7 linked regions of the Homo sapiens genome follow. The protein of the gene in region 6 interacts with the protein of the main gene of each other region in a pairwise test. Each region holds a gene or a part of one and is shown on either strand. Other genes may lie near its edges.

Evidence for each region.
Region 1: the proteins of OPRM1 (region 6) and CLDN22 interact in binary tests that used the Homo sapiens proteins (3 or more experiments, as listed by UniProt).
Region 2: the proteins of OPRM1 (region 6) and CNIH1 interact in binary tests that used the Homo sapiens proteins (3 or more experiments, as listed by UniProt).
Region 3: the proteins of OPRM1 (region 6) and TEX264 interact in binary tests that used the Homo sapiens proteins (3 or more experiments, as listed by UniProt).
Region 4: the proteins of OPRM1 (region 6) and CLEC12B interact in binary tests that used the Homo sapiens proteins (3 or more experiments, as listed by UniProt).
Region 5: the proteins of OPRM1 (region 6) and CLCN7 interact in binary tests that used the Homo sapiens proteins (3 or more experiments, as listed by UniProt).
Region 7: the proteins of OPRM1 (region 6) and ALOX5AP interact in binary tests that used the Homo sapiens proteins (3 or more experiments, as listed by UniProt).

The regions. Positions count from the first base shown.
Region 1 is NC_000004.12:183,317,600-183,321,726, forward strand, and holds CLDN22 (claudin-22), read right to left. Parts: upstream 2,678-4,127; 5' UTR 2,620-2,677; coding exon 1,957-2,619; 3' UTR 501-1,956; downstream 1-500. UniProt on the Homo sapiens protein: Plays a major role in tight junction-specific obliteration of the intercellular space, through calcium-independent cell-adhesion activity.
Region 2 is NC_000014.9:54,424,375-54,427,874, forward strand, and holds part of CNIH1 (protein cornichon homolog 1), read right to left. Parts: intron 3,468-3,500; coding exon 3,440-3,467; 3' UTR 1-3,439. UniProt on the Homo sapiens protein: Involved in the selective transport and maturation of TGF-alpha family proteins.
Region 3 is NC_000003.12:51,677,752-51,681,251, forward strand, and holds part of TEX264 (testis-expressed protein 264), read left to right. Parts: intron 1-3,500. UniProt on the Homo sapiens protein: Major reticulophagy (also called ER-phagy) receptor that acts independently of other candidate reticulophagy receptors to remodel subdomains of the endoplasmic reticulum into autophagosomes upon nutrient stress, which then fuse with lysosomes for endoplasmic reticulum turnover.
Region 4 is NC_000012.12:10,013,627-10,016,461, reverse strand, and holds part of CLEC12B (C-type lectin domain family 12 member B), read right to left. Parts: intron 2,658-2,835; exon of another isoform or gene 1,940-2,657; coding exon 1,721-1,939; intron 1,577-1,720; exon of another isoform or gene 1,211-1,576; coding exon 1,056-1,210; exon of another isoform or gene 851-1,055; coding exon 735-850; coding exon of another isoform or gene 716-734; exon of another isoform or gene 1-715. UniProt on the Homo sapiens protein: Inhibitory receptor postulated to negatively regulate immune and non-immune functions. Upon phosphorylation, recruits SH2 domain-containing PTPN6 and PTPN11 phosphatases to its ITIM motif and antagonizes activation signals.
Region 5 is NC_000016.10:1,468,529-1,472,028, forward strand, and holds part of CLCN7 (H(+)/Cl(-) exchange transporter 7), read right to left. Parts: intron 3,236-3,500; exon of another isoform or gene 3,096-3,235; intron 1-3,095. UniProt on the Homo sapiens protein: Slowly voltage-gated channel mediating the exchange of chloride ions against protons. Functions as antiporter and contributes to the acidification of the lysosome lumen and may be involved in maintaining lysosomal pH.
Region 6 is NC_000006.12:154,094,740-154,098,239, reverse strand, and holds part of OPRM1 (mu-type opioid receptor), read right to left. Parts: intron 1-3,500. UniProt on the Homo sapiens protein: Receptor for endogenous opioids such as beta-endorphin and endomorphin. Receptor for natural and synthetic opioids including morphine, heroin, DAMGO, fentanyl, etorphine, buprenorphin and methadone.
Region 7 is NC_000013.11:30,738,543-30,742,042, forward strand, and holds part of ALOX5AP (arachidonate 5-lipoxygenase-activating protein), read left to right. Parts: intron 1-3,500. UniProt on the Homo sapiens protein: Required for leukotriene biosynthesis by ALOX5 (5-lipoxygenase). Anchors ALOX5 to the membrane. Binds arachidonic acid, and could play an essential role in the transfer of arachidonic acid to ALOX5.

The sequences.
Region 1 (4,127 bases), on a different chromosome or scaffold from region 6:
GTCTATAGAATTATGTGTAGTTGTTCCGTACGATTTTATTTTCTTCATTTATTTATTTACAGTCTTATTTATGTTCTGTTTAATATATAGTTTGATTCTGGCCATTTTAAATATTTGACACAGAAGAGACTATATTGGAATATTTACAGCTTTATAAGTCTTTCATCAGATTAGCTGTTGACTTTTTGTAATACAAAAAGTTTCAGACAAGTATTAAAGAATAAAATCTGTCTCAGGCTGGTAGTTAGCAGTTGTGACCAAGATGCTTTTGGTTGTTGTATTTCACAAAATTTCCTCATTTCTAACATGAGAGATGAACTTATTTTAATATAATCCTTTTTCTACACTTTAAAAGTCAGCAATAGTGTTATGTATTTATAGGCAGCTTTTAATAATCTTGTCATATTTGTACTAACCCAAATGATTCACAGTGACAAAACATTTTAATAACTTGATCACAAAACCATATGGACAAATATGAATTTTAATATTATAAATACTATTTTTAAAAGGTAGAATTTATTCGCACAGGGTAAAAAGAATGTAATATTTAGTTCTCAAGTTTGAATTATCAGTATATTATTACAATTTTGTATATCAGAATCTTAAGTGTTACAGGTACAAAAAGAATATTGCTAGCCAAATGAACAAAGTTTAGCTAAATCTCTGTAGCATGCAAATCAAATAAATTAAAATTTTTTGCTATTGCTTTATCTATATTGTCTTAAATATCAAAAGCTCAGGACTGAACTTAATATTTAATCAGGTTAAATTCTGAACATGTTTCTGTTTTAATTTGTCTTGTTTGTAAACGTATGCAAATACATCACATAGATTAACTGGTTTCTGCACTTTCCATGTGTTTGTGGGTGGAAAAAAATTCAGTGGTTTTTTTTAAAAAAAAAAGCAAAAACAAAGCTACATATTGCCTAATACTCTATTTCAGTGTCGTTTATTGTTCAGTTTATTTCCCTGATTGGCACAAACACAAGAGTTTCCTTGAACCATGTACCAAGCAAATACAAAATATTTCATGAAGAAATCCCCAGGCTGGCAGTTTGTGATGAATAGTTCTTGTTGGAACTATATGTATTGCTGATAAAAAAGGACGAAGTATTTTCATTGAGCAAATAAAATGAAGGGCTCCAGAATATGTGCTCTGTGGTCGCTGCGCCTGGGCTGGCAGTGTGCTCCACAGAGAGGCAGCCGTCCCAGGAGGTTATCTACCCACACACCCCAGTCCTGCCCTGCCGTGCCCCCCACAGGCTGCTCAGTGCCTGGGAAGCCAGAAACGCTGCCCGTGAAATACAGAACACAGGATGCAGAAGCACGTTTGTGTGGCAGAGTCTACTTGAATCATCCAAAACCCAAGATCGCCCTCCTGCCTCTGACAGTATAGAAGGCGTGACTGAATGTGGCTGCCTTTTGAAAAAGGTTCCATAGAGACACTGAGGTCTCTGATTCAGAAGGAGATGATGTGTCTACACCTTTCACCTCTGAAGCTTCTAAAGAGCTAGTAATTATTTTATATAATAAGACGTCATGCATTTTAAATAAATATGCAACAAGACCTCAGGCTTATTATACTAGGTTATCTTAAACACCTGAAATAAGTAAATGATTTGCCAAATGATTCCGCTCCATATGAATAATACCTTCAAAGATACATAGAGATTAATGTTTTATTTACCACTTCTGTGCAATCGCTATTTTAAAATTGAGAAAACTCATCCACAGTAATGGGTGTCATTACTATTCAGTCTTGATTGATTTTGGTCTCAGACTAGAAGATAAAAATGGTTTACCAGTCTTGGAAAGAAACTATAGTTTAATAGCCACAGGAAAAGATGCATTTTCAAAAATCAAAAGCACAGTGAGATGACTAGAGCGGGACATCCTACCAAATCCAGTGTTGAGCAAGCGTCTCCTGAACAGCAGACGCTTGTCCTTTCTGGCTTAGTGTTTCAGGTTGGTGTTTCTCGTCTCCAGTTCTTGATGATGATCTTGTGTTTGTGCCACTGCGTAGTGGCCCGAAGCTAGGGGAGCGTGGCTGGAGCAGGCTGCACAGTGGAGCAGACACCCTCCTAGCAGAAGAGAAAGTCCAGCAAACCAGCCCAGAAACAGGGCCTCCCCAAACTCCCACCTGGGGACAAAGTCTGGGACGTTCTCATCCCAGAACTCCTGAACCGTCTTGTGGGCAACCCAAGAGACGGGAACCAGGGCTGTGACTCCCGAGGCCCAGGACAGAATTCCTCCCAGGATCAGCAGTCGCCTCTTGAGATCTCTCTGACTCTCTCCAATTCTCAAACAGTCCAGGCCAAACCCAGAGACCAGCAGGCCCAGAAATCCCAGCCCATTTGACAGAAACATTAAGATCCTGGAGACCCTGAGTTCAGCAGGCAAAGCCAGGAAGGAGTCAAAGTCCTTGCATTGCATCCCCACTTCCTCTTGGATGACACAGGTTTGCCAGAGTCCCATGGTCCAGTTTTCCATTTCATTTAAGTCCAGGTTGAGGTTCTTCCAGTGTGGCAGGTAGTTTGTAAGACAGGATAAAACCCATCCCAGCAAAGATAATGAAACTCCAGCTAGTTGAGCTACAGTTCTAAATACTAAAGCCATTATAATGTCCTGAGAGCTTTAGCCAAACTAACTCCTGCCCTTCGGTTGCTGTGAAAAGAAGTGTGACACTTGTGTTATAACTTATGAAACTCAGAAATATTTCTTCATTGTGTATATAGGAGGATTCTTGCCAGAGTTGCTATTGTTTGATTCCATGTTGAATGGGTTTCACAAAAGGATAGGGAAATAATGCCGCCAACCAGTAATGCCAAGGTGTGGCCAAGATTGTGTTTGTGTCCTGTGGGCTGGATTTGACAGAAAGCAGTTTGTCACTGAAATATAATTAAGTGATAATCTCCTTTCATTGTCAAGGTTAAAATGGCTTTCATGTTATTCCCAACCTTTCTAACAAAGAATTAAGTCTAAATGCAAAATGTTTAACTGATGGTTTTGGTTCAACTCCTCCTGCTTTGTGTTTCACTAACTGCACCTGTCAGATTTTCATCTCTTATAGTTCTCACATTTCAAATGTGCATGTTATGGTAATACTGAGTGTTATTTTTTAAAAATAGGTTTAAGAAAAGTATTTCTTAACCAAATAAATCAATCTTATCAGAAATCTCTCTACACCTTAACTCACTCCTGCGTTTCAGAAATTCCTCAGGCTACATATACCACATGGCATATGAAGCAATACTGAACTACAGATCTAGTTTATTTATCTGCATGCCTTTCTGTCAAATTCACGCTTGTGTGCATAAACACTTTTTTTTCTTATATATGCTTTCTGTGCCGAGGAAAGTTCAGCATTTGGACTCTGCAGGTTGGAGTCAGCATTTCTGTTTATTCACCACTAAAGTAGATATCCCCATGTTAGCGATTTTTCATTGAACAAAGGAAAGGTTTTATTCAAATGACCTGACAATATCAGGATATCAAGAAAAATGTCTTTGGAATTGTTTTTCTTTTTTTAATACGAAGGTTTTGAGGGAAAGGATGAGAGAAGAGATTGGCCACCATTTTAAATCTGAGAGGATCACAAGGTACTGAAAACTCTTCAGCCTCATAAAATCTTGCCGCACTGAGTGCCTGGTAATATCCTAAAAACAAACCACTTCTGTTCAAAGAAGAAAAAGGTCATTGTTGTGGAAATAACACTTTGAGGTTGGCTTAGCATGTGGTTTTGCTAAAGTAGAACACTTAAAATTTTCAGATTGTTAGTTTTTTTCTTTAGGAAACAGAAACTAAAGATCATTTCTGACTACCAACAGCAACAACAAAAAAAAGAAAAACAGAAAAAAGCTTTCTAATATGAAATTTACACATTAAAGCTTGAAACTGACTGTATTGGACAGCCACCACATTAATTTCAATAACCAGATCAATGAAGCTTGTTTCACTTCTACCTGTATAATGCTTACCATAATCATTTTCTTTTAGATAAAAGATTTTTCCTTCATTATTCAGATTTTAGAGGGAAGTGGGTCTACCTACTGTAGAAAAATAGTGAATGAGAAAACGTGAGCATCACAGGTTTAGCTACAAAACAAAGAGGTCTTTGTCATCAC
Region 2 (3,500 bases), on a different chromosome or scaffold from region 6:
GTACATTTATGGATGTTAAATGACATAAATAAGTAAACTAGACACATACTTTTAAATATAGACCATTATTTGAGTGGGCTTGATACACTGCTAGGATATAACCACACCTAAGGTGAAAGCTCACCCCTACAGGGTATAAGTGATACACGGAAGTCATTATTTGCACTATGGCAATATTCCACGAACTCTATTCATAAACATAGAAGGAGAAGAGAGGTGTTGTACAAAGGATTTTGCTGGTTTCAAAGCACATACAACTTTATTTCCTTTCTATGTAAATATTTGACATAGCTTCAAAATATATTGATTTGGGGAGCAGAGAAGAGCTCTATGAGAACTGTTTGCAGGAGTGGTCGTCAAGGTGAAAACACTGAACTGGCTTTAAAAGAGACACATACTGCAAACTGCTGTGTACTTTGTTGCCATGTGAGAGACCATTATCTGGGTACATGAATTTGACTGGTAGGTCTGTCAGTTCATGGTACAATCAGTGAGGCTAGGAAACTATTACTTATACTCGATCCATACTCAAGTCAAAAGTGGATGGTCTTGGTCATTTCCTATCACTTCCCTTTCCCATGAAAAATAATTCAAACTTCAAACAAATTAGCAGTTTGTCCATAGCCTGGGACCAAACCCTCCTCTACCCTGGAATGAGGAGTGAGGAATATCATTAAGCATTGAGAAAACTGTCAAACATCATTAATAACATTTGGATATGAGTGTTCAAATAATTTCTACACCATACCTCCTTAGTATTAAAGGGCCATACTGCCACAATATAGTATTATTACTCAGTAAAGTAACGGCTAAACAGACATTTATTATGTTAGGGTTTTAATTCAGGACAATCTGTGGTATCCATAGCAACAAAAAGTTGTTGGTATAGATATAACCACAGTGTTACACAAGATGCAATAAAATAGACACAAACAGGGAAAACAATTTCCTAGAGCTAGAAAGCTTTTAAAGATAAAGCACATAATACCAAAAGTAACTGTAATAAGGAGAAAAAAAAAAAGAGTACCTAAATGAACAGCTGTTGCTGCACAGGGAATGTTTAACGTAAACTGAATTATAAACCCAGGCTAACCATGCCTCAGCTGAACCCACAGGAATAATAGGCTAGGGCCACCCCAAAGAGATTGATGTGGAAAATAAATCCAGAGCAATGAAAAGAGCCAGTCGGATATTGTCAGATTCAAGTATTTCGTTTCTGCTTTCTCTTGGTAAGTGATCTAATTCATAAAACACTGACATGGTAAAAGTGGGTAGATATTAGGAGAGCAGGTACTCAATCTTTTAATCACTTACATGCCTAGGAACTCACAAACTACCACAAAGATGGGTGAAACTCCCTGTCAATCATCTTTGAGGAATCAGCTGAAGACTACATATCTTATTTGGGAAACATGAGAAAATGGCTTCCACAAATCCCAACCAGTAAACTTACTCCTGGAGAATATTCTGGAATAGATTATTAAAAGGATGTTTGTTAACACTTATGAAGTAGTGTTTGCTAAGAGAGGCAGGGTTCACGAAAATATTTTGACAGGAATACTCAAGTAACAGCCCCAGGAAACCCATCTGGATTATAGAAGACTTGGCCAGGTCTTGCATGATCAAAAGTCCTTGTGAACAAGAAAGAAAACTAAGTGCATGCTGATGTAATCAGGTGGACTGGAAACTGAATGACTGCCTGTGCTCAAAGCATGAATCTTGAGAGCCCAGCAAGTACTCAATAAATAATTTGTTACATGAACTGACCAAGAGTCAGATCCCTCTAGTTCTCCAGACTGTGAAATACAAGGTCTTTAAAGCTTTCCTTGTTATGGAACAGTTTGAGTCTCTTCACTCTTCTGGTTCTAAATCTCTTCCTCAACATACTCACCCCCATTACCCAGAATAGTTAACAGCTACTCTCTCCCAACCATGGGAAAGCACTGAAATAAAGCACTTTTCACTTAGTAGAGAATAAAACAGCATCTAATCCAACAAGTTCATAGAGTAAGATTTCCACAAACGCATCCATAAACTTCCTTGATCATGTGAAATTTCTATATATTGGTTCTCTTTCTTTTGATCCTCTTCTCAAGAAACTTCCAAACCACTTATTTTATTTTCAACTGCCTTAACTTCCTCATCCCAAATAAAGCACAAGATTTATTTATGCTTATGAAAACATGCAAGCCATAATTTACCTGCCTTACAAGCAGCAGCAAAAACTCAAATTTACAAGCCATTTTACCTTAAAACTGACTGTTCCAAAAAGGAAAAATCAAAGTAAAATATTTTAAGTGCCACCATAATTTTTCTTAATTGGTAAGAGAAATGATGATGCTATGCCATCCACGTTTATGAATCTTGTCAAATGACAAAAGAGGTTAATGTGCTCGGCATTTAAAAATTTTCCTTTTTAGATCTAGGCATGGTATTTTTCAGAAAACCCATAATGTAGTACGTCACTTTTTAAAAATGACAGCAACATGTCTTTATCATGGATTAAGCAAGTTTAAGAAATACTATTTTTAATCTCAAACAATGCACTGAAAGTGAGTCTTAATTTCAGAGTTTTATTGTATTGCACTAAAGGAACAGCAGGATGGTTATACAATTTTCTCTCATTCAGTTTTGAAAATCTGTAGTACCTGCAAATTCTTAAGAATACCTTTACCACCAGATTAGAACAGTAAGCATAATAACCAATTTCTTAATAAGTAATGTCTTACAAATAAAAACACATTTAAAATAGCTTTAAATGCATTCTTCACAAGTAATTCAGCATATATTTTTATATCATGTTTACTTATGCTTAAGAATTAAAGCAAGTATATTTATTACTCTGATGGAAATATGGGAAATCTCTCATTCATGCAATATACAGGGATAATATTCAAGCGAAGGGAAAATTCCCGCTTTTTATTTTTGTAAATGTATCCATATATAATCATCGACATGACAGATGAGGAAACCCATGAAGTTTCCCACTAGTCAGATATACATTTTCACTTCATCAGAAGCACCTGATATCTACAGCTAATTTATAATTAGATACTGTTTCAATGAAACCAAAATGAGCCCTACAAGTTCCTATAAACAAAAGCTTCCAATGTACTAGGACAGTCAGTAATTAATGCATCATTCAGAGGATTATGGCTGTTCCTTAAGAAGTGCAAGTTCAAACCTGTCAACACCAGAGGTAATCATTTTATATTAATTTATACGTAATACCATTTAAAATCTTTATCTGAGTATAACATATGAAAACAGTCTTTCCACAAGCAAAAATGTGGAAACATTTAAAAAATAAGGAGTCATTTTTTAAAGTAACTGATCAGATTCCACAGGCTACTCTTGGACAGGATCTTGCTGGATAGAATCCCTTCATTTGGTGGCTTTTTGCATGCACTTAACTGGACCAATTCTTCTGTGTGTTGTTCTAAGAGCTCACCAAAACATAGATCATGCTGAAAAGAAGAAAAAAGATGTTAATTTGAACA
Region 3 (3,500 bases), on a different chromosome or scaffold from region 6:
GACCTGTTCATAGTAGCTGCTGCTGGAGCTGTTAGCCTTGTGCCCTGGAGTCCTGTATGGGAAGAGGCTGCAGGTCTGGGTGAGTGGTTCTTGTGAGGCAGGAGGAAGGATTCCATTCTCCATCCCTGAAACCCTTGGCATGGTTGGGAATGGGAAGGTGGGGAAGAAGTCTTTTGGGAAGTGGACAGACCCTGGCAGGGGCTCATGGGTGTACTCACCCACCTCAGAGCCCAGCATTCATGGAGTGTGGGCCATTCCTCTTCAAGGTATGCAAGGGATGGGGTATGAGTTCAGAGATAAGGATCACATGTAGGCGGATGTCAGTCACAGATCTCCCTTACACACACTGGTCCATACTGCCCTTGCATGACTGGGGAAGGGTCCTGACTAGAAAAACTGCTCTGCCTTTAGCCCTGCTTCTGCGGTGGGTGCTGGGGGCTTGGAAAGTGACTTCAGGCTCCCTTTTGGGGCCTGGTCCCTCTGGGAGCCTTCAGTGTTGGAGGGGAAGGAAGGAGCTGAGAGGACCCTGAGTGCCTCGCTTGATCCTGGCCAGCTCTGGCCTGTGGACAGGCCCTAGTGGCTGGGCTGCTATCACTGTGCCTGTGGGCCCATCCTGTCTGCCAGGCTGGCTCTCTACCTCCTGCCCCACCCTGTGCCACCATCACCTCTGCTGCTATGTTTGGGGCTTAAGCAACCTGCCTGCTTGCTTATATGGGGAGCCTGGCTGGGGCAAGATGGGTGTGGCAGCTAGTTCAATTTATGTGGCCCAAGTGGGCCTATATTTGCTGCTTACATCTACTACCTAGGAGGTGGTGTTTGCTCCAGGCATGGAGTGGGTTGGGGAACTGGTGGTACTTGCTTCTGCCTTTAGTAAACAAGACTGCCATTGAAGCCCCCTTTCCCTTAGTCCAATGAGAACCAAGGCCCAGGGCCACTAGGTCTGCAGGGGCCTGTGGTCATTTGGCTGGCATGACCACAGCCTCACAGAGGCTGGTGAGAGTTCTGATGTAGGCCTGTGTCACACTCCCTCCTCCCTCAGTGTGTGTGGAGAGAAGGCTCCCTGCCCTCCCTGGAGGCACTTAGTTTGGGTGGAGCCTGGGAAGGGGTGAGGGAGTAGGATTTCCCAGGACTGACCTCCTCAACAAAGGCAATGGGAATGTGGGCTGGGATGTTTCCTGAGGGCTCAGGCCGCCCCCTATCCTGGTTACTCCATGGTTATTTTCTGCCAGGTGGAGTCCAGGCATTTGCTGTGCAGCAGGTTAACTATGTGGGACAGGTCTGGAAGCACGAGCTCCTCTCTGCCCACTAGAACTGTCCTTGAGGTGAGGTGAGACGAGGTGTGAGAGGAAGGGGCTTCGGATTTGCCCTTCTGGGTTTGAATCAAGGCTCCACTGCTAACCAATGTGTGACTTTAGGTGAGTCACTTGGCCTGTCTGAGTATGTCTCCTCATCTGTCACATGAGGATAAAAGAATCCCTACCTCAGGGTTTTTGTTTTGTGGGGGCTAATTGATAATGATATGGCCCAATACCCAGTTCTTTAAATAGGTGGGTGTCACACTTGACATCCAGTCCTGCCTGAGGACCTCATGCCACTGGGACTTTGTACTTTTAGGGACCCTGCCTGCCTCTCTGGTTTAGTCCCAGCCTCCTGCAGGTTGTCTGGGCCATGTGAGGCGGCACAGTGCAGGGAAAAGCCATTGTGCAGCCCGCTTTCACTAGGGCCAATTTCCGGGACTCCTGGATGCCCCTGGGTTGTGTGGCGCAGCTCTGAAGCTGGTCTGCTTGAGTTTGAATCCTGACTTCAGCACTCCCTTGCTGTGTGACCTTGGCTGAATGGCTTGGTTGTCTGGGCCTTGGGAACAGGGTTGAAAACAGTACCAACCACAGAAGGCTGTTTGGATTTAATGAGCTTATGCTTGGAAGGCAGAGTCTGGGGAAAGTGGTGAGTGCCTGGTCAGATATCAGCTGTTTTTAGGATTCTGTTTGAAGGTGTAGGGTTATAGAGGAAGGTTCCTGAAAGGTTTCTAAGTAAACTCACCTTTGAGGGCTGGTATCTTGTTGACTCCTTTCTTTCCTCCCGAGCCTGAAGAATGAGGCTTGTCCTCTGGCCTAGCTGTCTGCATCATCTCGTGTCCTGACTGGTGCCTGTCTCCGTGTGCCTTTGGGCATAAGCTTCCCAGGGAAGTTGGGGGTTGGCGTGTTGACCTGTAGCACCTAGGAGGGCAAACGAGGTCCCGTATCAACCACCTAGTCATGGGCCAGTGCAGCTCGTCTATTCCCTTGGGAGTACAAGTGCAAATGAAGGGCCCTGCCTCTACTTTCCCCCTTAACTTGGGTAGCTCTGGGTCAGTGGGCTGGCATGGGAAGAGTAAGGGCAGCCCTCTGTGCCTGGGTTTGAGAGATGGTGCTGCTGTCCCTGTCAGGTTGTGTAGGTTGTGGGCCTGGGGTTGGCAGTTTGTATTAACCCTGAACCCAATGACTACATTTGGTCTGGGCCGCTGACACCATTTCTCATTCCTGCATCCTGGAAGATTATCAGTCTTGTCCAGTTCCCAGACTCAGCGAGGTCTTGGCTTGGCAGGGGCCCCGAGATGGCTGTCTTCGCTATAGCCTCACACAATAGGGTCGGCAGGGCACTGTGACACCACTCAGGAAGGGGCAGTGGGGCCAGCCTTGGGACTAGCTCGTACCTGGAAGCCTCAGGTTCTAAGCAGACTGCCCTCTCCTCCCAGTAATGGGACTCAGGAGGCTTTTCAGCCCAAAGGAGATGCTCTGGGGCCTGGCATGCCTCTGTTGTTTTCCTGGTACTCTTGCTTTGAGGACACATCCTGGATGGGCTTGTCTTTACCCCGAGTGGTGGTGGGTCTGGCCACTGCCCTGTTTCCCAGATGTGGTTCCTTGTAGGTACTAGTTCTGGTCCAATTCTTGTTCTGGGCAGAGGTACCCAGAGAAATAGCTGATCTGGGGAGGAAGAGGAGCAGGCAGGTAGGGCTGGGAGGCCCAGGCCTATGTCCTAGGGTTCGGCCCAAATACAGATACTCATTGAGCCAAGGTGGATGGGGTCTCTTGCCCATCAGGACATCCCAACCTTCTGGGCACTTGACAGCCTTAGTAGGCCTTTTCCCTGGAGGCGGGTCTGGGCTTTACTGGGAGGCCAGGAAAGCTTTCCTCTGCCACTGGATCAGCCTTGCCACTCCCTAGGTTATTTTAGGGCCTGTCCCATTTCCTCCTTGCTGGTGCCTTGTTCAGCTGCTTCCCAGCTTCAACTTTGCATGGGGCCACTTAGTGGGTGGTAGGCTTGCTGAGAGACCTTCTAGGCTCCTCCTTAGGCCAGGGCAGGGGAGGAGGTAGGAAGTGTTCTTACTTGTGGAATTAGGGAGTTGCTTAGCCAGGAAAGGAGCTGCTGTGCCCCACACACCTCCTGGATCCTGGGAGCCCTGTCTTCTTAGCTCCCTTCTTCCACTTTGACAGGAGCTCTGCCTTTTCTCCAGGTGGAGG
Region 4 (2,835 bases), on a different chromosome or scaffold from region 6:
CACATTTTTGTTGACGTCTATTTTTTCATAACTTTAAATAGTTAAAAAAATTGAAATTTTCCAAGTGTTATATATTCTATTTGTCCTTTAAATAGTTTCATCCAAACCCTGAAGTGGAAGGTTTAGTTCATTTTAATTCATAAAAGACACTTGCCGTATATTGTAATTGGCAAGTCCTCAACATGACACTAATTGTTGAACTAATCAGTCAATTCAGTCTTACTTTTTGTTAGAAAATGGTTGACAGTTATTTAGTATAAATAAATGTGTTGATATGTGTTCTTATGACCAGCAGCACCCTTTTGGATTGTAGGTGCTGGAGAGTCAGAATAGCTGAGTGACTGAGTGCACAATCCCTAAAGTGCAATTTATGAGCTGAGTGACCTCAGGCAAGTTACTTAATCTCTCTATTATAATATTTCTACCTATAAAATGGGAATATAACTGCTTTCTTCAAGGGTTAGTATTTATAAAATACTTTGAATGTAGTATTAGGTGTGTGTGTGTGTTAAATAAACACATTTCTACCAAAAGATAAAATTCAGTGCCTTGCTATAAATTTGTCACAGAGATGAAATGAACTATACCTCCTTTCAATATTTGTTACTGGAGCTCTTTTCTCAGTATGTTGTACTCCTCTTTTTATGTCTGTATTTATAATTCTCACAATCATTATTAATTTTCCCAGGATTCCATGGAAAGCTTGTGTTTACCCTCAATAGTTAGAGACGTACAAGGATGGAGAGGGAACAGAGCCATCTTCCCAGAACCAACTTCTGCCAGAGGAGTCCCATGATAATCCCAGCCAAAAGAACGAAAACATGAGTAATGGCTGTGACATAAGAAAATCCTAAGAGAGAAAACAGAGAAAAAGTTTTACGTGAGCGCCACATTCCAGTTTGCAGAGTTAAGATAGATGAGGACATTCATTAAATTCATGTATTAATTCTAATTCAAGATGCACTGAATTTCCATCATGTGAATCAGATGTTTTATTTATTTCTCTCTCATTGTATGGATAATGTCTATAACTAGAGAATGAGACTCAATCCTACCTTTTCTTCCAAACTGTCTATCTTCACTAGGGTGGAGTTCTTGTCTATGCAGTCCTTTCTACTGTTAGCCCAGGTTTTCTCCTCATTTGTTGTAAAATAGTAGCAACTATTTTGGTACCATTGCCACATCTTAGGACATGGATTACATCTGTGGTCTGAAAAGGAAATTATACCCAATAATATAAACTGAAGACTCTAGAGTGACTGGAGAAGGCTTTGAAACAAAATCATGTAATTGAACAATAGGGACTGAGAGCCTGCACCCTGAAAGCATACTGCTTTAGAAGCCTCTGAAAAAAAAGTGACCCCTGGTTATGGGTTGGGGCAACAGGGATTCTCTTTTCATGGCTTAGTCTTCTGACCTCAGAATTACCAGCTATGCCTTTAAGCTTTCAGAGCAACATGATCACCTAGAAATAGTTAATAAAATGAGGGGTTGAAGTATCCAGATTGATATCATTCCAAGATACTTCCCAAATTTGCCTGTGGTTTCAAAAATATTAAATGAATTTGTATATTTCCTTGCTGTGTGTAAATTTAGTGCAACATCATTAAGGTTCACTGGATGACATAACTCTCTCAATACTCTTAGGTGGTACATGTGATCAACTTAGACCAGGATAACATATGCCATCTGACTGGTCAGCAGGACTAAGTCTGATTACCTGAAGTATGAATGATTAGCTCTTGGCACAGTTTGATGGCCATTTGTTCCTGCCTCTTCAGTACACTGGAGATCTGTGACTTGAGAAATTCCTCCTCCATGGACAAGTTGTTGGAGTTGCCCAGTTGCTGGGATAAGTTATCCTGCTGCTGTTGGATGGTTTTCTGAAGTTGACTCAATTTCTCTGAATCTGAGTTAATGTCATTAGATATCTGCAAAACTCCAAGACATGACAGGAGACAAGTTCATATATTCTTCTATTCTTATAACTGTAGATAATTCTCGTGACAGAAACATTTCTTAATTGTTCAAGATTTATTAGTAGCTCTTAGTATTTGAGGTATCATGAAAGAAACAAACCAGATGCCTTTCTATTCCAAATTATTTATAGTTCTTTATAATTTTATTTACATTTTTATTATTGCACTATATTAAAATAATGATTTAATAATGATATATTTCTGACATCACATCTAAGGAAGGGCCAGTCATTCTGCCACTCATTTTCATGAAATTGTTTTATTTTTGTTTTATTTTATTTGGAGATAGATGATGTAATTGTTGTTTTAATGAAAACAGCATTCTTTGGGACAATGGATATCTCAAACTCTGCAGATGACCTGAGATGCTTGTTTACCAAAAGAAAAGAAAAAGCAGATCTTAATGGCATATCAGACCATTTCTCGTCATGGGTCCATGAAATATGCCCTTTTCATAAGCATTTAAGGTGCTTCATCAGCACAACAAATTTAAGAACCACTGCACCAAAAGCACTAAATTTTAGAAAAGAAATGTCACCCTTCTATATCGAACCAATGGACGTACGTTATTGCATTTTCACTTAATTTTTAAATATACATTATTGTAGAAGATCGGCTGCTAATCCTCATACTGATTGGCTCCAGAATATCTGTTACTGCTGCTTGAACATCATATTCCTTTTCAAAAGAGCAAGGTACATCATTAGTCTCTTTTTATGTTGGCAAAGATATGTCCAAATCCTAATTAACCATTAAATCCTAAAAAATTATCCATTAAATCATTAAAAAGAAATGAATGTAGCAGAGGAGATGTTAGTATCATTCAGCAAATTAACTTTCTTGACTGTGAGTTCCC
Region 5 (3,500 bases), on a different chromosome or scaffold from region 6:
AAACACTAGATGCTGTTCCTCAAACTCCTGCCACACACGGCAACCTACACGGTCCCAAGCGCCGGACACTAACTAAAAACAGACAGGCTCAGGAACACGTGAGCCAACACTCCCGAGAGGCGAGACTCGGGCCGGACGGGAGGCGAGGTCATCAGGGTTGGGAGTGGGTGGGACTAGAAAGATGGGTCTGAAAATAGCCTGCACCCCCTTCCTGGTGCTTACGCGGATCTACACGCATTGCACCGACACTCTCTTGGTTTTGGGGCTGCGCTGTTACGGAAAGGTAAACATTGGGGGGAAACTCGGTGAAGGGTACACAAGCCCCCTGTGCTACCTTTGCTGCTTCCTGTGAATCCAGAGTGATTTAAAAGTCAAAAAAGGGCTGGGCACAGTGGCTCACGCCTGTAATCCCAGCGCTTTCGGAGGCCAAGGCGGGCAGATCACCCGAGGTCAGGAGTTCGAGACCAGCCTGGCCAACATGAAGCAACCCCGTCTCTACTTAAAAAAAACGAAAAAAAAAAAAAAAAATTAGCCGGGCATGGTGGTGCACACCTGTAATCCCAGCTACTCGGGAGGCTAAGGCAGGAGAACTGCTTGAACCCGGGAGGTGGAGGTTGCAGTGAGCCGAGATCCTGCCACTGTATTCCAGCCTGGGCAACAGAGCAAGACCCTGTCTCAAATAAATAAATAAAATAAAACAAAATAAAAGTCAAAATAATGTATAGAGGGGAACTACATCAAACTTTAAAACTTCTACACATCAAAGAAAACAACAGAGCAAAAGGTAACCTATGAAACGAGAAAATATTTGCAAATGTGATAAGGAATTAATATCTGATAAGGGATTAATATTCAGAATACATAAAAAAACTCAGGGTCAGGGGAGGTGGCTCACGTCTGTCATCCCAGCACTTTGGGAGGCTGAGGCGGGCTGATCACTTGAGGTCAGGAGTTCAAGACCAGCCTGACCAATGTGGCGAAACCCCAACTCTCCTAAAAATACAAAAATTAGCCGGGCATGGTGGTGGGCGCCTGTAATCCCAGCTACTCAGGAGGCTGAGGCAGGAGAATCACTTGAACCCAATAGGCAGAGGTCGTGGTAAGCTGAGATCACACCACTGCCCTTCAGCCTGGGCGACAGAGGGAGACTCCGTCAAAAACAAAAACAAAAATAAACAAAAAACCAAAAACCAAAAACAAACATAAAAAAGCAGCGTCTGAAAGTCCCACTTGCACGCCATGTTCACAGCAGCACCGTTCACAATGACCAAAATGCGGAAGCACCTGCTGTGCCGATGGATGAGTGAGTCAAGGAAATGCAGCCTCTCCCCGCAATGGAATAATTCAGCCATAAAGAGGAATGACCACCGACCCGTGCTGCAGCACGACGGGCCGGAGGACACTGTGCCCCGTGAAATAAGCCAGTCAGAAAAAGACAGCTCCCGCAGGTCCACTCGCAAGAGGGCCCTGGAGCCGTCAGGTCCCCTGAGGCAGATGGCAACGAGGGGGCTGGGCAGCAGGAGGAAGGGAGAGCGTTGAATGGGTGCAGTTTCAGTTTGGCAAGGAATGGGTTGTGTAACACTAAGAGCGTGCTCAACCCTACTGACTGCACTCACGGATGATTAAACGGTCATTAAACAAAATGTTTTTTAGAAACAAGGTCTTGCTATGTTGCCCAGGCTGGTCTCTAAGTCCTGGGCTCAAATAATCCTTCCGCCTTGGCCTCTCAAGTAGCTGGTATGAGAGGCGTGCACCACCATGCCTGGCTCAAAATGGTAAATTTATGGTATGTGTTCTTTACCACAGTTTTTTTTAAAACTTAAAGCAGGATTAAAGACCATTTGCTGTTCTGCTCGGCCTGTGTTGCGTCCTAACATTCAGCAGGCCTCTGCCAGGACCAGGCTAGACGCTAGGCACAGAGGATACAGCAGCTGCCCCGCGGGGGGATGGGGGTTACAGTCAAAGGAAACAAGGTGACACACAAAGGCCACAGAGACCAAGGAGAGGCCTTTGCTGTCCATGCAGTGTCCCCATGGCGTTAAGGCAGAGACCTAAAGCAAGACAGACACTGAACAGCAATGCTGGAGGGCAGGGAAGGGCAGGGGACAGCAGGGGAACCCTCCCAGGCTGGCAGAGGACTTCCTGGAGGCCAGAAAAGAACCAAGGGGCACTTCCTCAAGTACAGCAGAGCTCAAGGGGCCACTGGCGACGACCCCAGACCCTCCCCCGCAGCCTTGCTGCGCCCACAGTTCTTTCTCAGGCTGCGGTCTGTGGCTCCGGGTGCCCAGGCAGGACACAGTCCCACACTAACCCAGACCCCTGCCCTGCCAAGGTCTTATGTGGAGTGTCCCAACATGAGTTCCCAGGGATGTCCTGCAAATACCCACCTCCCCTCACTGCCCCCTGAGACCCAAGTGTTTCTGGCTCCAGCCGCTTTCCCTCTCAGTTCTCAAGGAGTTCTGCTTCCTGCCGCCCACACACGGCCAGGGCTGGCTGACCTCACCCTCGCCCTGTCCCAACACCACCAGATGAGCAGTGACTGGCTTGGTCAATTCACCACTACACCACACAAAGCAAGACCGGCCTGAGAACAGGAACAGCAACCCACAGGCAGCTCTGAAGGGCCTGGGCTTTCAGCGGGCACCCAGCCTCCAACAAGCCACTCCACAGTCTGCCCTGCCCAGGGCAGCCACCTCATAGTGTTTGGCCAGCTGTGCCCACGCTGAGGTGGCAACGACACCACCAGCCAACCTGAAAATCCTGCAACAAACCCTAAAGAGCCTGGAGGCAGCTAGGACCAGTTCTCATGTTCACTGGAACAGTCCCGTCAGCAGGGGATGGCCTGGGTTGATATTTTAGCTCAAAACAGCTCTGGAGGCCTTGAACCCAAGGGCAGCTTACAGTACCCCGTCTGTGGCCACACTGGGGTGCGCCTGAGCCTAACTGTGAGCTGTGCCCACCAGTCAGAGCAGACCCTCCCCCAGAAAAGCAGCACCAAGAAATCCAGTAGCTACTCAGGAAGTTGGACAGGAAAGTCACAACGAACACGAATCCCTCTTGTGTTGCTGGTTTTAACACGACCGGGCACGACTCACGTTTCTTCAGAGCGTAGTTTGTGACAGGCACCGTGCTCAGCGCTATGCATGCGTTAACTTTTTCGCAGACGGGAAAACTGGGCAACAGGGAGGCTACAGGCCTTGCAGGAGGCCATCGGCGAGTCCGATGCTCAGAGCACAAACGCCTGGCCTAAGAGGTGGTGTCTTGGCCTCTAGACTCCGCCTCTCCAGTCTGTCTGCAGGGGAAGGCTGGGGCCCTTCAGGAATGGGGTCCTAGCTTCCCATGGGCTCCCCTAGAGATGAGCCAAATTCAAAGCCTGTTCATGTGCGCAGCAGGGCTGACCTCCAGGCTCCACAGCGCATCCCAAACACACACTCCCTCTGTCCTTTCCCCCCGTCCGCCTGCCTGAAGATCTTGTGCTCTTCAAGCCCAAGCCTTGTGAC
Region 6 (3,500 bases):
AATTTCCCTAAATTTCTCAGGTCTGAGACCATGCTGAGAAGAGTGAAAAATAGACTGGAATATATCAGGGCACATTGATTAAAAGCCTGGGTTATAAGATGGAATTTAACTGGAGTCAATAGTTAGCCACTAATTAAAATTTTTTTTCTAATTTTTAAAATTTTATAAATTTAGTAGAGACAAGGTCTTGCTATGTTGGCCAGGTTGGTCTCGAACACCTGGCCTCAAACAATCCTCCTGCCTTGGCCTCCCAAAGTACTAGGATAACAGGCGTGAGCCACTGCACCCAACCCTCAGCCACTACATTTTAACTATGACCTTGGGCAAGTTACTTCCTTAAACATTAGTTTCCTCAACTATAGAGTAGAGGTTACAATCCATATCTAATATGATTAAATAAGATATCCCATCCCAGACACAAAATGGTCAATATATGTTATTATGAATAGTCTAAAAGCCAAATTTTTCTAGGGATAAACACATTTTTAACTAAACAACATTTTCTCTCACATATCACAATAATTTATAGAAACACATACTAATTTCTTCTGCTATGCATGAAATATTAATTTTAAACCTACATTTACTCTAATTCCATACATGCAAAAAGAGACATGCCTATATCACACGCACACACACACACACACACACACGGAACCATTTTCTTTTTAAACTGTAGAACTGAAAGAATAGCCATTTTGATTTCATTCACAAAATAAGCATTAATGTTGTCCACTGCTGTAATTTTGTGAGCTATTCTCATTTGAGTTTTTTTTCCCATTGAATTGAAACAATTACTTTCCCAAATTAACTCTCCACAGATGTCTTGTAAAAAAAACTGAGATCAACTTTTGAGAGTGATGTATTTTATTTTAAAAGTAGGCTTCTGCTTTTAGTTTAGCTGGGGATAATATAGTTCACAGTTAAACCAAATACAGAGCATCTCCTAACTTCTTGACCCGCTATTTTGATTAAAATGTCAAGAAAGTGCTTTAATAATAGTAATTAGAGGGTTTAGGACTGGACTTGCCATATTAATGGAAAGGAATTAGCAGGACATGCCACGACGTTCACTTTATCACTATTATATTGCTTTTTCCTGTAAGACCCACGGGTAGATATGTCAGAATATTAAGGCTTTTTCCAAGGATAATTACATTATTTCACAAAACACATAACTCATTTGGTGAAAACATTCATGTCAATCAGCTTGACTGAAATGGCTAGACAGGTTAGACAAAACAGTAAATGTGCTACTTTGGAGATGAAGGTACAGTTTAAATAAGAGATTTCAGTTTATTGTTTTATTTAAAAGGCAGATTCTTGGACCCTCACATAACAAACTATAATTTATTAGAGCAGTTCTTAAGAACTTACATTTTCTGGAGCTCATAGTAAATGTTGAGAATCTGGCTGAGACCATGTGATAATAATTGAGTGCAAAGTAGCATTGTGTAGGAAAGCAGAGAAAAGCTGTGGAGTAATATTCGAAGCCCTGGGTGCTTGTCTGGATTCTACCTCTTCCTGGCTGTTTGATCTTATATAATGATTTAACTTCCCTGAGCATTTTCTTACATTTACCCATCAGAGTTGTTATAGGAAGCAGATGTGATAATGCCCATAAAAGCACTTTTGAATCTGTACATTGCCATATAAATGTAAGGCAGCATTATTATTATAGTGGTTGTTAGTACTAGCCTGGTGCAAAAATAATTGCGGTTTTTGCCATTGAAAGTAATGGCAAAACCCGCAATTACTTTTGCACCAAACTCTACCGTTTCAGTGATAATTCAACTGATGTAACAGTGTTGCTTTTTTCCCCATATAATGCTAAACGTTTTCAATAATCACCTACGTGTCAAGATATAAAATGCGTTAGAGGCCAGACACAGGGGCTCACGTCTGGAATCTCAGCACTTTGGGAGGCTGAGGTGGGCGGATCACTTGGGGTCAAGAGTTTGAGGCCAGCCTGACCAACAAGGTGAAACCCCATCTCCACTAAAAATAATACAAAAATTAGCTGGGTGTGGTGGCGCATGCCTGTAATCCCAGCTACTGGGGAGGCTGAGGCAGGAGAATCGTTTGAACCAGGAGGAAGAGGTTGCAGTGAGCTGAGATCGCACCACTGCACTCCAGCCTGGGCGACAGAGTAATTCCATTTCAAACTAAAAATCAAAAAACAAACAAACAACAACAATAACAACAAAAAGAAAATGCATTAGATAATATGATGCGGGTGGAAACCAAGTGGGCAAGGCAGGTTAGCAGTGGCCAACAGTTCAGGTTTGAGTTGAACCTGAAGTGATCGAAATAAACAAGGGAAGGGTTTGAAAGCAAAGTGGAGTTCAATAGGACAACAGCAGTGTAGGGCGTGTGTGGAGAAATTAAATTGCACTGAGAACAGATGGAAAATGAATGCCTATGCCTTAGTCTACCTAATAAAGATCTAAAAGTCATAAAGACAGCAAGCTGAACATAAATCAGGCACAGAGGCTACAGCTGGAGCAGTAGGCTGAGCCCAGGCATGCACAAAAAAAACACGAGACCATCTTTTTTGTTTTTTCATACTCAGCTAGGGAAAGACCTCTTTAGGGCACTGAATCAATCTCTTGGTCTCCTTATCAAAAGTACGCGTTAGAAATAAAATTAGAAAACAACCATGAATGTAACTGATTTTTTGAAAAGTATAAATAACATTGGATCAGAGTAGCAAAGGCTGAGGAGGAGAAAAGGAAGAAGGCCTATTTTGAATATTTTCCCATTACTGACGGTAAGAGGGTTAGGGTACATAGTCATTTAGGTTGTTCGTCAGTTGCATGATGAAGGGGTCATGCCTGCCACATCTCCTGAAATATCCTCAGCCCTCTCATCATTTATTCAACAGACATGAATCTGTCCAATGCTTTGGATGTTTTGGAAGTACTTTCTTTCTTTTCTTTCTTTCTTTTGAGATGGAGTTTCGTTCTTGTTGCCCAGGCTGGAGTGCAATGGCACGACCTGGGCTCACTGCAACCTCTGCCTCCCAGGTTCAAGCGATTCTCCTGTCTCAGCCTCCCAAATAGCTGGAATTACAGGTATGTGCCACCACACCTGGCTAATTTTGTATTTTTAGTAGAGACGGGGTTTCACCATGTTGACCAGGCTGGTCTCGAACTCCTGACCCCAGGTGATCCACTAGCCTTGGCCTCCCAAAGTGCTGGGATTACAGGCATGAGCTACTGTGCCTGGCCAGAAGTACTTTCTTTTTAATGTGCTAGACTCTGGCTTGGGAGAGCAAGACAGACACGGCTCCTGCCCTCAGGAAGTAATGGCTTCCCTGTCTCATGCAGCATGTCCTTACTACGGATTGTTAGCAGAAGTGGTCATAATTATTCGCTCCCTATATACCTATCCTTTTGCAATGTGACTGCAGATCCTATCAGCAAGAGATGGAGTCTAATTTCTCACCCTTTGAATCTAGGTTGGCAGGATGACTTTATTTGACCTATAAAACCACAGAG
Region 7 (3,500 bases), on a different chromosome or scaffold from region 6:
TTTTAATTACACAGACGCATTTCTTATGAGTAGCAGGCAGAGAGCCTCCAACTTCTTCTGCCTAGGTACCAGCAGCTTAGACATGATGCAAACCTGGGAAGCACATACTGTATTTGGAGAAAGTGATTGGGAAGAAATGTGAGCTGAGGGGAGGGGCTCAGTGCCCCTGAGCTACACTTAGTGATGGCAGAGGAAGGATGTCCTCCCGCAGGAGGCTGTTCCACATCTGCTCTGGTTGTAGGGGGAGCTGGCAGGCATTAGCAGCGGCCTCTTTCCCCCAAGAGAGGCAGCCTCCTCCAAGTTTTGGCGACATTATGGCCCTGCAATCATAAGGGTTTGTGAGCATAGTGCTAAGGAGGGAAATGGAGCTGCTGTTACTAGTTCCACCCCAACACACACACACACACTCACAAGAAACCTCACAAGCACCGTATTGGAAGACTTTGCCATCCAACCTGGGATTTGACAGGCTCTAGAAGCAGAATCATAGACTCATGAAGTTCCCCCAAAGCAGGAATCTTCCTTACAGTAACCCCCAACCACCCCCCTCCACCGCCTCCACCGGCTGCTTCTTCCTGAACACTGCAGTGTTTGGAAAACTCACAAACTTCCAAGCTTGCCTTTCCTATTGTTGCATGGATTGAAAGCTTGCGTTGTGTGAAGAATGGCGCTTCCTGCTGTGCTTAGTTTTATCTCATATAATCTTTGCACCATTTAATCCTTGCACTCACCCACTCATGCAACTGCCTTTGCAGAGACTGGAGGGGCCGCTGTAGGCTGACCTTTCCTTCACTGTACCTATTTTGTTCCCTGCTTTATTCCCCTGCACCCAGGACACTGCCTGGCACAAAGACAGGTCTTTATAAGTGTATGCAAGTGAATAAAGATATATATATTATTATTGTTATTTTTGAGACAGTTTCACTCTGTCACCCAGGCTGGAGTGCAGTAGCGCAATCTCAGCTGACTGCAACCTCTGCCTCCCAGGCTCAAGTGATTCTCATGTCTCAGCCTCCTGAGTAGCTAGGACTACAAGCATGTGCCACCACGCCCAGCTAATTTTTGTATTTTTAGTAAGGACAGGGTTTCACCATGTTGGCCAGGTTGGCCTCCAACTCCTGACCTCAAGTCATCCTCCTGCCTCGACCTCCCAAAGTGCTGGGATTACAGGCATGAAACCAGCCTAGAAATACATACTATTATTTATTCTTGTTTTACAGATAAGCAAAGTGAGTCATGGAGAATTTGGTTGAAAGTCCCAAGGTCAGGAGTCGTGAAGCTGGGATTAAAACCTAATCATCTGACTTTAGAGAGTAGACACTTGCTCCATGCATATTGCCTCCAATTCATTCATTCAAGCACTCCCTGCTCAAGAAGTTCTTTCTTATGTTGAGCTGAAATCTGCAGCCCTATGCGTTTTACCCAGCAGTCCTGGTGCTGTTCCCTAAAATCACTTAGACTGTGCCTGCTCTTTCTGTGTTTACAGTGTCAGCTGTAATATCCCCCTCTTCGGCCTAACGTTTCTGAAGTCCCTTGCCACTGGGTCTCCTCTCCTCTTCCTGTGTTCTTTCTAAGAACACCTATGCAGATAGGTGTCTTCTGTACAGGGAAGCTGTTCCTGAGATCCGGGCATCGACTCTGTTAGAATAATCTACGTATGAGTTATTTTTTTGAGAACTATGTGTCATTGCTGACTCATATTAACTCTGTGGTTAACTAAAATCTCAAGATCTCTTTATGTTTGTTGAGAAACTTATTTAACTTCTCTGGCCCTCCGTTTCCTTCACTGAGCAGTGGAGTGATTGATAACCTCCACCTGTGGTTGCTGAAGGTCTTGCACAAGATGATATAGTTAAAGTAGCTAGCAGTGCCCACGTACGGCGGATGCCTCACAACGGTTTGCAGCCATCTCTCTATCTGTGTCTTTGTCTCTCTCTCACACTGGTTTTGGCTTACTGTTAGCAGCTAGCCGAGATAAGTGTGTTTATGGTCTTTGCATGTATTGTTTCTGTAGCATACTGGAGGATTACAAGAGGTTGGGGAGTGAGGGGGCGGTGAGGAGTAGACAAAGGCAGCCAACTCTTCCAAGTTTAGCTTAGAAGGAAGGAGCGGTAAACCCTAGTTGAATGTTGGACTGAAGCAGGTTTGTTTTTGTTTTGTTTAAAGGATAGGGAAGATCTGTGCGTGTTTCCAGGATAAAGAAAAGGAGAGAATATGATATTAAAGATTCTGGAAGTGGGAGAAGGAGCAATGAAATACAGACTTGAAGTCAGTGGCATGGACAGGGTCAAGATCACAGTTAGAGGATGCAGCCTTAGAGAAAAGGAAGGGGCTCGGTTCTCTGAGCAAGGAGGGAAAGAAGAGAGGCAGATGCAGAGAAGTACGGCACATCGTGCTGCTGGTTGTAGAAATAACCTCTGACTTTTAATAAAGTCATCCCTCGGTATCCCTGGGGGATTAGTTCTATGACCTCCCTCGGATGCCAAAATTCGTGGATGCTCAAGTCCCTGATATAAAATGGCATAGTATTTGCATTTAACCTACACACATCCTCCATATCCTTTTTTTTTTTTTTTTTTTTTTTTTTTTTTTTTTTGTGAGATGGAGTCTTGCTCTGTCGCCCTGGCTGGAGTACAGTGGCTCGATCTTGGCTCACTGCAAGCTCCGCCTCCCGGGTTCATGCCATTCTCCTGCCTCAGCCTACAGGTGCCTGCCACCACGCCCAGCTAATTTTTTTTTTGTATTTTTTAGTAGAGACAGGGTTTCACCATGTTAGCCAGGATGGTCTCGACACATCCTCCATATACTTTAAGTAACCTCTAGATAATCTCTAGATTACTTGTTTTGTCTTTTTTTTTTTTTTTTCTTTTTGAGATGGAGTTTCACTCTTGTCACCCAGGCTGGAGTGCAATGGTGCAATCTCAGTTCACTGCAACCTCCGCCTCCTGGGTTCAAGCAATTCTCCTGTCTCAGCCTCCTGTGTAGCTAGGATTACAGGCCCCTCCCCACCCCCACCCCCCAACAACTGGCTAATTTTTGTATTTTTAGTAGAGATGGGGTGTCACCACGTTGGCCTGGCTGGTCTTGAACTCCTGACCTCAGGTGATCTACCCGCTTCAGCCTCCCAAAGTGATGGGATTATAGGCATGAGCCACTGTGTGTGGCCTAGATTACTTATAATACCTGATAGAATGTAAATGCTATGTAAACAGTTGTTATACTGTATTGTTAAAAGACAGTAACAAGAAAAAAAATCTGTACATGTTCAGTCCAGACAAATGGTTTTCTGTTTTTTTTTTTTTTTTTTAATATTTTTGGTCAGTGGTTGGTTGACTCCAGGAATGCAGAACCCGCAGATATAGAAGGTTGATTATGCGTTCAGAGGCAGGGAATACCATCTTGGGTTCCAGAAAGAAAATGATCAGCATTTTCTGTCATACTCTGGTAAAAACAGATCTTTTGAATGGACAGGTGTATTAAACCCTGTGGAGCTGGCTGGG